Linked DNA regions of Homo sapiens: all the other regions are linked to region 2. Evidence: fine-mapped expression QTL. A gene starts in region 2. Each other region holds a variant in brackets. All regions are shown on one strand. Distances are between the middles of the regions.

Region 1 (2,757 bases), 100 kb before region 2:
ACTATGCAGCCATAAAAAGGAATGAGATCATGTCCTTTGCAGGGACATGGAGGAAGCTGGAAGCCATCATACTCAGCAAACTAACACAGGAACAGAAAACCAAAGACGGCATGTTCTCACTCATAAGTGGGAGCTGAACAATGAGAACACATGGACACAGTGAGGGGAACAACACACACTGGGGCCCGTTGAGGAGGCGGGAGGAGGGAGAGCATCAGGACCAATAGCTAATGCATGTGGGGCTTAATACCTAGGTGATGGGTTGATAGGTACAGCAAACCACCATGGCACACGTTTACCTATGTAACAAACCTGCACGTTCTGCACATGTATCCCAGAACCTAAAATAAAATAAAAATTTTTTTAAGGTGCATTGAAGATATTTAGCATAGAAAGCTTGTTGGAAGGGGAGCCTATTAAAAATATATCAGTTTTGAATACCTATATACCAGCCTGGTGAGGTGGCTCATGCCTATAATTCCAGCACTTTGGGAGACCAAGGAAGGAGGATCACATAAGCCCAGGAGTTCAAGACCAGCCTGGGCAACATAGTGAGACCTCACCTCTACAAAAAAGTTTTTTAAAAGACATGGTGGTACATAGCTGTAGTCTCAGCTACTCAGGAGGATAAGGCAGGAGGATCACCTGAGCCCCAGAGGTTGAAGTTGCAGTAAGTCATGATTATGCCACTGCACTCCAGCCTAGGCAACAGAGCAAGGCCTTGTCTTAAAAAAAAAAAAAAAAAAGTTGTGAATCTCTTATCCAAAATACTTTAGACCAGAAGTGTTTCAGACTTTGGATTTTTTTGAATTTTGGAATATTTGCATGTACATAATGACTTAGGGATGGGACCCAAGTCCAAACATGAAATTCACTGGTTTCGTATATACCTTATATACACCATCTGAAGGTAATTTTATACATTTTTTTTTTTTGAGACAGAATCTTGCTCTGCCGCCCGGGCTAGAGTGCAGTGGCATGTTCTCAGCTCACTGCAATCTCCACCTCCCAGGTTCAAGCGATTCTCCTGCCTCAGTCTCCCGAGTTTCTGGGATTACAGGTGCCCGCCACCGCACCCAGCTAATTTTTGTATTTTCTGGTAGAGATGGGGTTTCACCATCTTGGCCAGGCTGGTCTCAAACTCCTGACCTCATGATCCACCCACTTGGGCCTCCCAAAGTGCTGGGATTACAGGCATGAGCCACCGCGCCCAGCCTATACAACATTTTTAAAATAATTTTGTTCATGAAACAAAGTTTTGACTGCAACCCATCACATGAGGTCAGATGTGCGGTTTTCCACTTATGGCCTCATGTTGGCCCTCAAAAAGTTTTGGATTTTGGAACATTTCAGATTCAGACTTTTAGATTAGGGATGGTTTACCTGTATTGGCAATATAATCCAGTGTCACATTAAAAGAATTATATGCCAAAAATTGAAATATGCTTTAATATTAGAAAATCTATTAATATAATTTACTATGTTAACCTATCTAAGGAGAAGCAACATCTTATGATCATGTTCATCTCTGTAACTTCTGAAAAAGCATTTGATAAAATTCAACATCCAATTTTGTTT[T/C]GTAAAAACTCTAATAAAACAGAAACAGATAGCTATTCTTTAGCATAATACATTTCTTTTTCAATTCAAGAGTTAGTATTGTTCTTAATGGAAAAACACTAAAGACATTCCCGTGCAAGATAAGGAAGTTTAGTATCATCACCATTATTTGAAAGTATTCTGGGCCATGAAGCAGCAGGATAGTAATGATGACACTGCAGATGTTTCACTAATTGATGCAGAAGAGGAGACAACTAATAGACCAAAAAAATCCAAAAATCAGATATTCAGTGGTATCGTTTTCCACTTATTCTTTCAAGTCAGTGCAATCATTGTCTATCTTCTCTGTGAGTTACTCAGCAGCAGCTTTATTGCCTGTATGATGACGATTATCTTGTTGTTGTCATGTGACTTTTGGGCAGCAAAGAATATCACAGGTAGACTAATGGTTGGCCTATGTTGGTGGAGTCACATTGATGAAGATGGAAAGAACCATTGGGTGTTTGAATCTAGAAAGTCTTCCTCTCAAGATAATAAAACTGTGTCAGAAGCTGAATCAAGAATCTTTTGATTGGGACTTACAGTCTGTGCAGTGCTTTGGGTGATATTTGCCTTTAGTGCCTTGTTCTCCTTCAGAGTAAACTGGTTAGCAGTGGTTATCATGGGTATGGTGTTAGCAGATGCCAACCTATATGGTTACATCAGGTGTAAGGTAAGCAGCAGAAATAATTTAACCAACATGGCTACCTCGTATCTTGTAAAGCAGTTTTTAAGACGAAACACTGGAGATGATCGGAGAAGCTTCCTGAATAGAGAAAGCTTATGTGCTTTGTTACATTGGGGAACAACTGAACAGATTCTTGACTCTGAACCTTTTGGAGCTTATTTGATGTCTCAATGAGGAGGATTGGCTTTGTTTTTCCACTTAAAAACTATTTATAAAAAGGAAAAGTAGTTTTCGTATTGTTTTTATTTCCTTTCCAGCAGTTGGGAATGGAAAGTATGTTGGCAGTAGAAACATTGTCAAGATTTGTTCTGTAGTGTATGTACATGTTCCATAGGTATGCGCATGGTCATGTAATATCAATATATCCCAAATTAATGAAAGAGTTTATTTATATATATAAAATGGAGACCTTTGCATTTTGATCCATAGAACATAGGAGGATGTTCTTAGTTTATCTCAAAGCTCTATGTGTT
Region 2 (2,757 bases):
ATCAATAGCTGCATCAGTTTGAATGTATTCCACATTGGTTTGGGGGAGTCCCAGGTCTCTGGCTGGACGCTGAGCAGAGCTAACAATGCCGGATGTGATCGTGTTCTGCAGTGCAAAGGGACTTCCCATGGCAACAACAAACTCCCCTTGCCGGACATCAGCTGAGCGTCCCAGAGGCAGCGTGGGGAGAGGCTCCTAAGGGAGAATGGGTAAAAGAGACCTGTCATCTGAAGATGCGAGCAAATAAGCAGCTCCAACCAGACCTGGCCTACCCCAGCCCCCACCTTAGTCTGAATCCTCAGCGTTGCGATGTCTGCCACGGGATCCACAGCTGTGACCACGGCCTCATACGTGTCGCCGCTTAGCAGTCTCACACGGACTCTGCGCCGATCAGCCACCACATGGGCGTTGGTGACAATGAGCCCATCGGCAGCCACCACGAATCCTGAGCCGTTCGAGATAGGGACCTCGCGGCCCAAGAAAGGGTGCCTGAAATGGAGGGAAAGCACAGATAAGAGGAGGCTCTGACCCCTCCTACCCGCCCGCCCTCCAGCCTGTGGCTTCAGTGCCTCCCGGTCTACCCCCACCATTACCGGTCCAGGATCTCGATATAGACCACGGCAGGTGCTGTCTTCTCCACCACATCTGCGATGAAGTTGTACTGACTCCGGGGAGAAGCGGGCGGCGGGCTAGGGACGGCGGCGAGGACGGCCGGAGGACCCCGACCCCCGCCCCACAACAACAACAGCACTGCCCCCCCAGCGCCCAGCGCCACCGCCAGCCACGCGCGCGAACGGGTTCCAGAGTTCTCTGAGGCCTCCCGGGTCCTGGTATCTGGGGTCACCGCAGTCAGTTGTGCCCGGGGACCCGGGGTCCCAGACGTCAGGCATGCTCGGGGTTCAGTGACCCCAACAGACAACCGGGCCCAGAGACTGGGGGTCCCATAAGTCACTCGGGCCCGGGGGTCAGAAGTTCCTGACGTCAGCAGGGCCCGGAGGTCAGGGGTCAAACGGGGTCTCCTCCCCCAGCGAATGCCCCCCAAAGCCCGCCATGCCCGAAGGCTCCAGCCTGCACCCCGCCCCGCCCTCGGCGCAGCCATCAGCTCCGCCTTGGCTGCCTCCTCGCCCGCCCTACTCAGAGGCGGCACCCAGGACGCGAGCAGGCGGACAGTAGGACGCGGGGCACGCCGGTACCTGAAGTCCTTCAGAAGTGCACGCCGGGACCAGGATTCCGGGAGGCCGACTCCTCCCTGCCCCACGAATGCCGGGAATTGTGGTCTCCGCCGGACGCGAGTTGTGAGACGGCCCAAGGGGCCGCGGGGTATGCTGGGACCGCTAGCCCTTCCGGCGCGCCTCAGGACTTCGGGTCCCCTCACCCCGGGCGGATGCCCAAAGACTCCGCCTTCCCAAGAGCCCCTGCGGCCGGGCGCGAAAATGGCGGCGGCGGCGACGGCCGGGCGCTCCTGAAGCAGCAGTTATGGAGCTTCCCTCAGGGCCGGGGCCGGAGCGGCTCTTTGACTCGCACCGGTAAGAGACCCGGCGGGAAGAGACCGATCCCCGCGTGCTCTCGGCCTTCGGCGCCTGACCACTTCGCCTCTCGCCCCCAGGCTTCCGGGTGACTGCTTCCTACTGCTCGTGCTGCTGCTCTACGCGCCAGTCGGGTTCTGCCTCCTCGTCCTGCGCCTCTTTCTCGGGATCCACGTCTTCCTGGTCAGCTGCGCGCTGCCAGACAGCGTCCTTCGCAGGTTCCGACGCGGGCGTTCGGGGAGTGTCAGAGCTGGGTCTGGCCCGAGGCCACACAGTCACCACCTCCTGTGTCCCCAGATTCGTAGTGCGGACCATGTGTGCGGTGCTAGGGCTCGTGGCCCGGCAGGAGGACTCCGGACTCCGGGATCACAGTGTCAGGGTCCTCATTTCCAACCATGTGACACCTTTCGACCACAACATAGTCAATTTGCTTACCACCTGTAGCACCGTGAGTGAGAGCGAGGCCGAGAGCGCCACGGGGCGGTTCCCTGGGGCCCAGCTGAAGGCCCCCCTGTCCCCACTCGCGTTCCCCATGGAGGATACTGAGCCTTACCCCTAACCCCGATCCTCTACCCAACATGTCAGTTTTTTTTTTCATTTTCCTCAATATTTTTCTTCTTGCTTTCTCTTCTCCTGGTTCCCAGCCTCTACTCAATAGTCCCCCCAGCTTTGTGTGCTGGTCTCGGGGCTTCATGGAGATGAATGGGCGGGGGGAGTTGGTGGAGTCACTCAAGAGATTCTGTGCTTCCACGAGGCTTCCCCCCACTCCTCTGCTGCTATTCCCTGAGGAAGAGGCCACCAATGGCCGGGAGGGGCTCCTGCGCTTCAGGTGGGTTTAGCACAGGTATGGGGCGCCAGCTGGGTAGGTGGTCAAGCTTGTGGGCCCTTGAGTTTTTACAACTTTCTTCGGCCCTTAGACCCCATCATCTCCAGTTCATTTCCTTTCTGTCCACTTTAAGTTCTTTCTCCTGAATCCCTTCATTCTTCAATTATGTGCTTGTAGAGTTTGACAGTTGCCTGTTATAAGGCAGGTGTGAGCTGCTGACTAGGCTGGCTGGATTCCCATCCTACTTTCTCCTTCCTCTTCTAGTTCCTGGCCATTTTCTATCCAAGATGTGGTACAACCTCTTACCCTGCAAGTTCAGAGACCCCTGGTCTCTGTGGTGAGTGTGTGTTGAACAGGGAATCTCTGGGGCTTGAAGGGGAAATTTCCCATCCCTGGCCCTGGCTT
Region 3 (2,757 bases), 41 kb after region 2:
TGTCACTCTGTCCAGTTGATTTCCCTTCATCATCCAAGTGGCCCAGGAGGTAATCTGTCAGGAGGGAGAAAGAGACAGGAAAGAAAGGACATGAGAGCGGGGTGCATCTGAGGGTCAGCCCTCCCAGGGTACCAGCCTCGATCCCTGGGCCCGGTCCCTGCACTCCCCACCATGGTGCCACAGCTGCAGCCGCCCGCTGCTCCCATCCACATGGATCCGGTGCAGGCCCTGGGGATCACTCTCCACAAGCCGTCGAAGAAAATCCACTATGTCCTGGGAGGGGAGGGGAGGGGAGGGGAGGCTGGTGTTGGGGGCAGTTCCTGGAGAGAGCAAGGGCTTCGCTGGCTTGATCTCTCCACCATGGCAGCCACCAACCAGCTATCCAGCCCAGAGACTCTCACTGGCTCTGACCTCTCCCTCCTCAGCACCGCAAAATCTGCTGCCCCCAGCTATTGTAGTGAATCACCTCCCCTCGCTGCTTTCCTGCCTTCCCAAGGGTTGAGTATGGTATTCAACCTGGCCTCCTCTACCATCCAGGATCTTCTCTCCTCAACCTGAGTTAGCCACACTGAGGCCCCTGGAATGAAGCCCTCCCACCTGCTCTTCCAGCTAGGCCCCCTGTCATATCTGCAGTATGAACAGCTCCACATAACCCACCCTGAGGCTAGCTCACACCTAAACAAGTACAGCAGCTCCTGGCTGGCCGCTCCTCTGCACCTCATCTGTTTCTCCACAAAACTAAGCTCTAAGAAATTACTTCCCTACTCAGGGACATCCAATAATCCCCCACTGCCAAGGCCATAGGCAGAGTTGAACCTAATTCCTCAGCCTACGATTCAGAGCCTTCCAAAAGGCTCCCAGGCTGACCTTTCCAGCCCTCCTTTTAATCCTCCCCTGCTTCACTGCTGTCCTCCCTCCCACCACCAGGCTCCCTCCAGCCTTGGGGCCTTCCCCCAGCTGCTCTCCAATCCCTCCTAACTCTTGAGCTTCTTTCTCACATCTTGCCTCACCTTCAAGGTCCAGTTCAAATTCTATCTCCCTTCAAAGCCTTCCCAGACCCTTTCATCTCCAATTATCTCTGCCTCCTCCAACTAACCTGCAACCACATTATCTGTGTTACACAATTTAGAAACTTGTTATTGATTGCTTTCTATTGCTCTCCTCATTGGCCAGGCAGCATGGAATTCCAAAGGGCATTGTGCTGGAGTGGAGCCACTTGCATCTGAGGTTATTTTTTCTTTTGAGGTGGATTCTTGCTCTGTCACCCAGGCTGGAGTGCAGTGGTATGATCTCAACTCACTGCAACCTCTGCCTCCCGTGTTCAAGCGATTCTCCTGCCTCACCCTCCCAAGTAGCTGGGATTACAGGCACACGCCACAATACCATTTGTATTTTTAGTAGAGAGGC[G/A]GTTTCACCATGTTGGCCAAGTTGTCTTGAACTCTTGACCTCAAGTGATCCACCCGCCTCAGCCTCCCAAAGTGCTGGGATTGCAGGTGTGAGCCCCTGTGCCCGGCCGACTATTTTTTGTTTGTTTCTGAGACAGGGTCTTGCTGTGTTGCCCAGGCTAGACCCAAACACCTAGGCTCAAGCGATCCTCCTGCCTGAGCCTCCTGAGTAGATGGGACTTCAGGTTTGCACCATCATGTCCAGCTTGTCCAAATTTTCACTCTGACACTACCTGCCTGTTTGATTCTGGAGAAGTCATTTAACTTCTTTGGACCTCTCCCTCATTCACAAAATAAGGCAAGACTCTTTAAGGCCTGGCCCACACATTCTGTGGTCCTGATGGGAGTCATTTCCTCAGGGAGTATAAGCTTCAAAGACAGGAATGATCACATTCCTATTTGCCTAATCAGGCCTAAACAGAGCAGGACTGACTGAGACGCTTAGAAGCCAATGATCTTTTGGACTTATTGAGTTAGAAGCCACAAACTTAGAAACTCCAGCGTGCTAAAAAAAAATCTGTAGGCAGGACTTCAGATGACTAAGGTATATTCAATTTTCTAAACAATTTTAGATCCAAGGCTTCCCTCAGAAGATAGTCCTGGCTTAACAGCATCTCCAATACTGCTAGGCACTTTCATCAGTCTTATACTTAAAATTCAATTTCCTGGTGGGTTTGTGTCACCTTCCTAACTGCAACATAAGCATAAATAATGAGCCAGGTGTGGTGCGGACGCCTATAGTCCCAGCTACTCGGGAGGCTGAAATCGAAGGACTGTTTGAGCCCAGGAGTTCAAGGCTGCAGTGAACTATGATCATGCCACTGCACTGAAGCCTGGGTAACAGAGGGAGACCCTGTCTCGATAAATAAATATGGCTGGGCATGGTGGCTCACGCCTGTAATCCCAGCACTTTGGGAGGCCAAGACGGGTGGGTCACTTGAGGCCAAGAGTTTTAGACCAGCCTGGCCAACATGGCGAAACCCCATCTATACTAAAGATACAAAAATTAGCTGGGCATGGTGGCACATGCCTGTAGTCCCAGCTACTCAGGAGGCTGAGGCACGAGAATTGCTCGAACTTGGGAGGCAGATGTTGCAGTAGCCAAGATCACACCACTGCACACCAGCCTGGGTGACAGAGTGAGACTCTGTCTCATAAAAATAAATAAATTAATTAATTAATAATAAATAAATAAAGCATGCTCTCTGCCCCATGTCAGGCAGCCTCCTCAGGATGTGCCACTCAAATATATACTGTATTTCTTCTCTCTTCCTCCTCAAACCAGTGTAGTCATCATTAAAAATAAAAAATA

Which allele goes with the higher level. Positions count from the first base shown, and alleles are read on the strand shown. Sizes are in standard deviations (SD) of each study's normalised expression. Not every link is listed here.
For the expression in whole blood of the gene that starts at base 1,173 in region 2, C is the low allele of the variant in region 1 and T is the other (moderate effect, 0.48 SD a copy in GTEx).

Evidence for each region. PIP is the estimated chance that this variant, and not a neighbour inherited with it, causes the effect.
Region 1: its variant is the best candidate, but not a certain one, in a credible set for the expression of HTRA2 in whole blood (GTEx, PIP 0.52).
Region 3: its variant is the best candidate, but not a certain one, in a credible set for the expression of HTRA2 in whole blood (TOPMed, PIP 0.51).

What each region holds. Positions count from the first base shown.
Region 1 is chr2:74,627,930-74,630,686 of GRCh38, reverse strand. The region is part of intron 2 of M1AP (meiosis 1 associated protein); the gene reads left to right. It also overlaps the pseudogene TVP23BP2. Among named protein-coding and RNA genes, the nearest start is that of M1AP, 19 kb to the left of the region's middle. The variant T/C (reference allele first, on the strand shown) is at 1,579.
Region 2 is chr2:74,528,349-74,531,105 of GRCh38, reverse strand. It overlaps HTRA2 (HtrA serine peptidase 2), which reads right to left and starts at 1,173. Exons shown (of 8, transcript NM_013247.5): 1 at 594-1,173; 2 at 285-489; 3 at 1-195. The coding sequence starts at 1,099. AUP1 (AUP1 lipid droplet regulating VLDL assembly factor) reads left to right here and starts at 1,400. Exons shown (of 12, transcript NM_181575.5): 1 at 1,400-1,526; 2 at 1,607-1,744; 3 at 1,824-1,974; 4 at 2,171-2,355; 5 at 2,617-2,689. The coding sequence starts at 1,477. RefSeq lists enhancers at 67-276, 287-366, 397-466, 487-616, 1,072-1,954 and 1 more and a silencer at 1,007-1,096.
Region 3 is chr2:74,487,541-74,490,297 of GRCh38, reverse strand. TTC31 (tetratricopeptide repeat domain 31) reads right to left here. Exons shown (of 13, transcript NM_022492.6): 3 at 171-273; 4 at 1-54. Among named protein-coding and RNA genes, the nearest start is that of TTC31, 5.8 kb to the right of the region's middle. The variant G/A (reference allele first, on the strand shown) is at 1,408.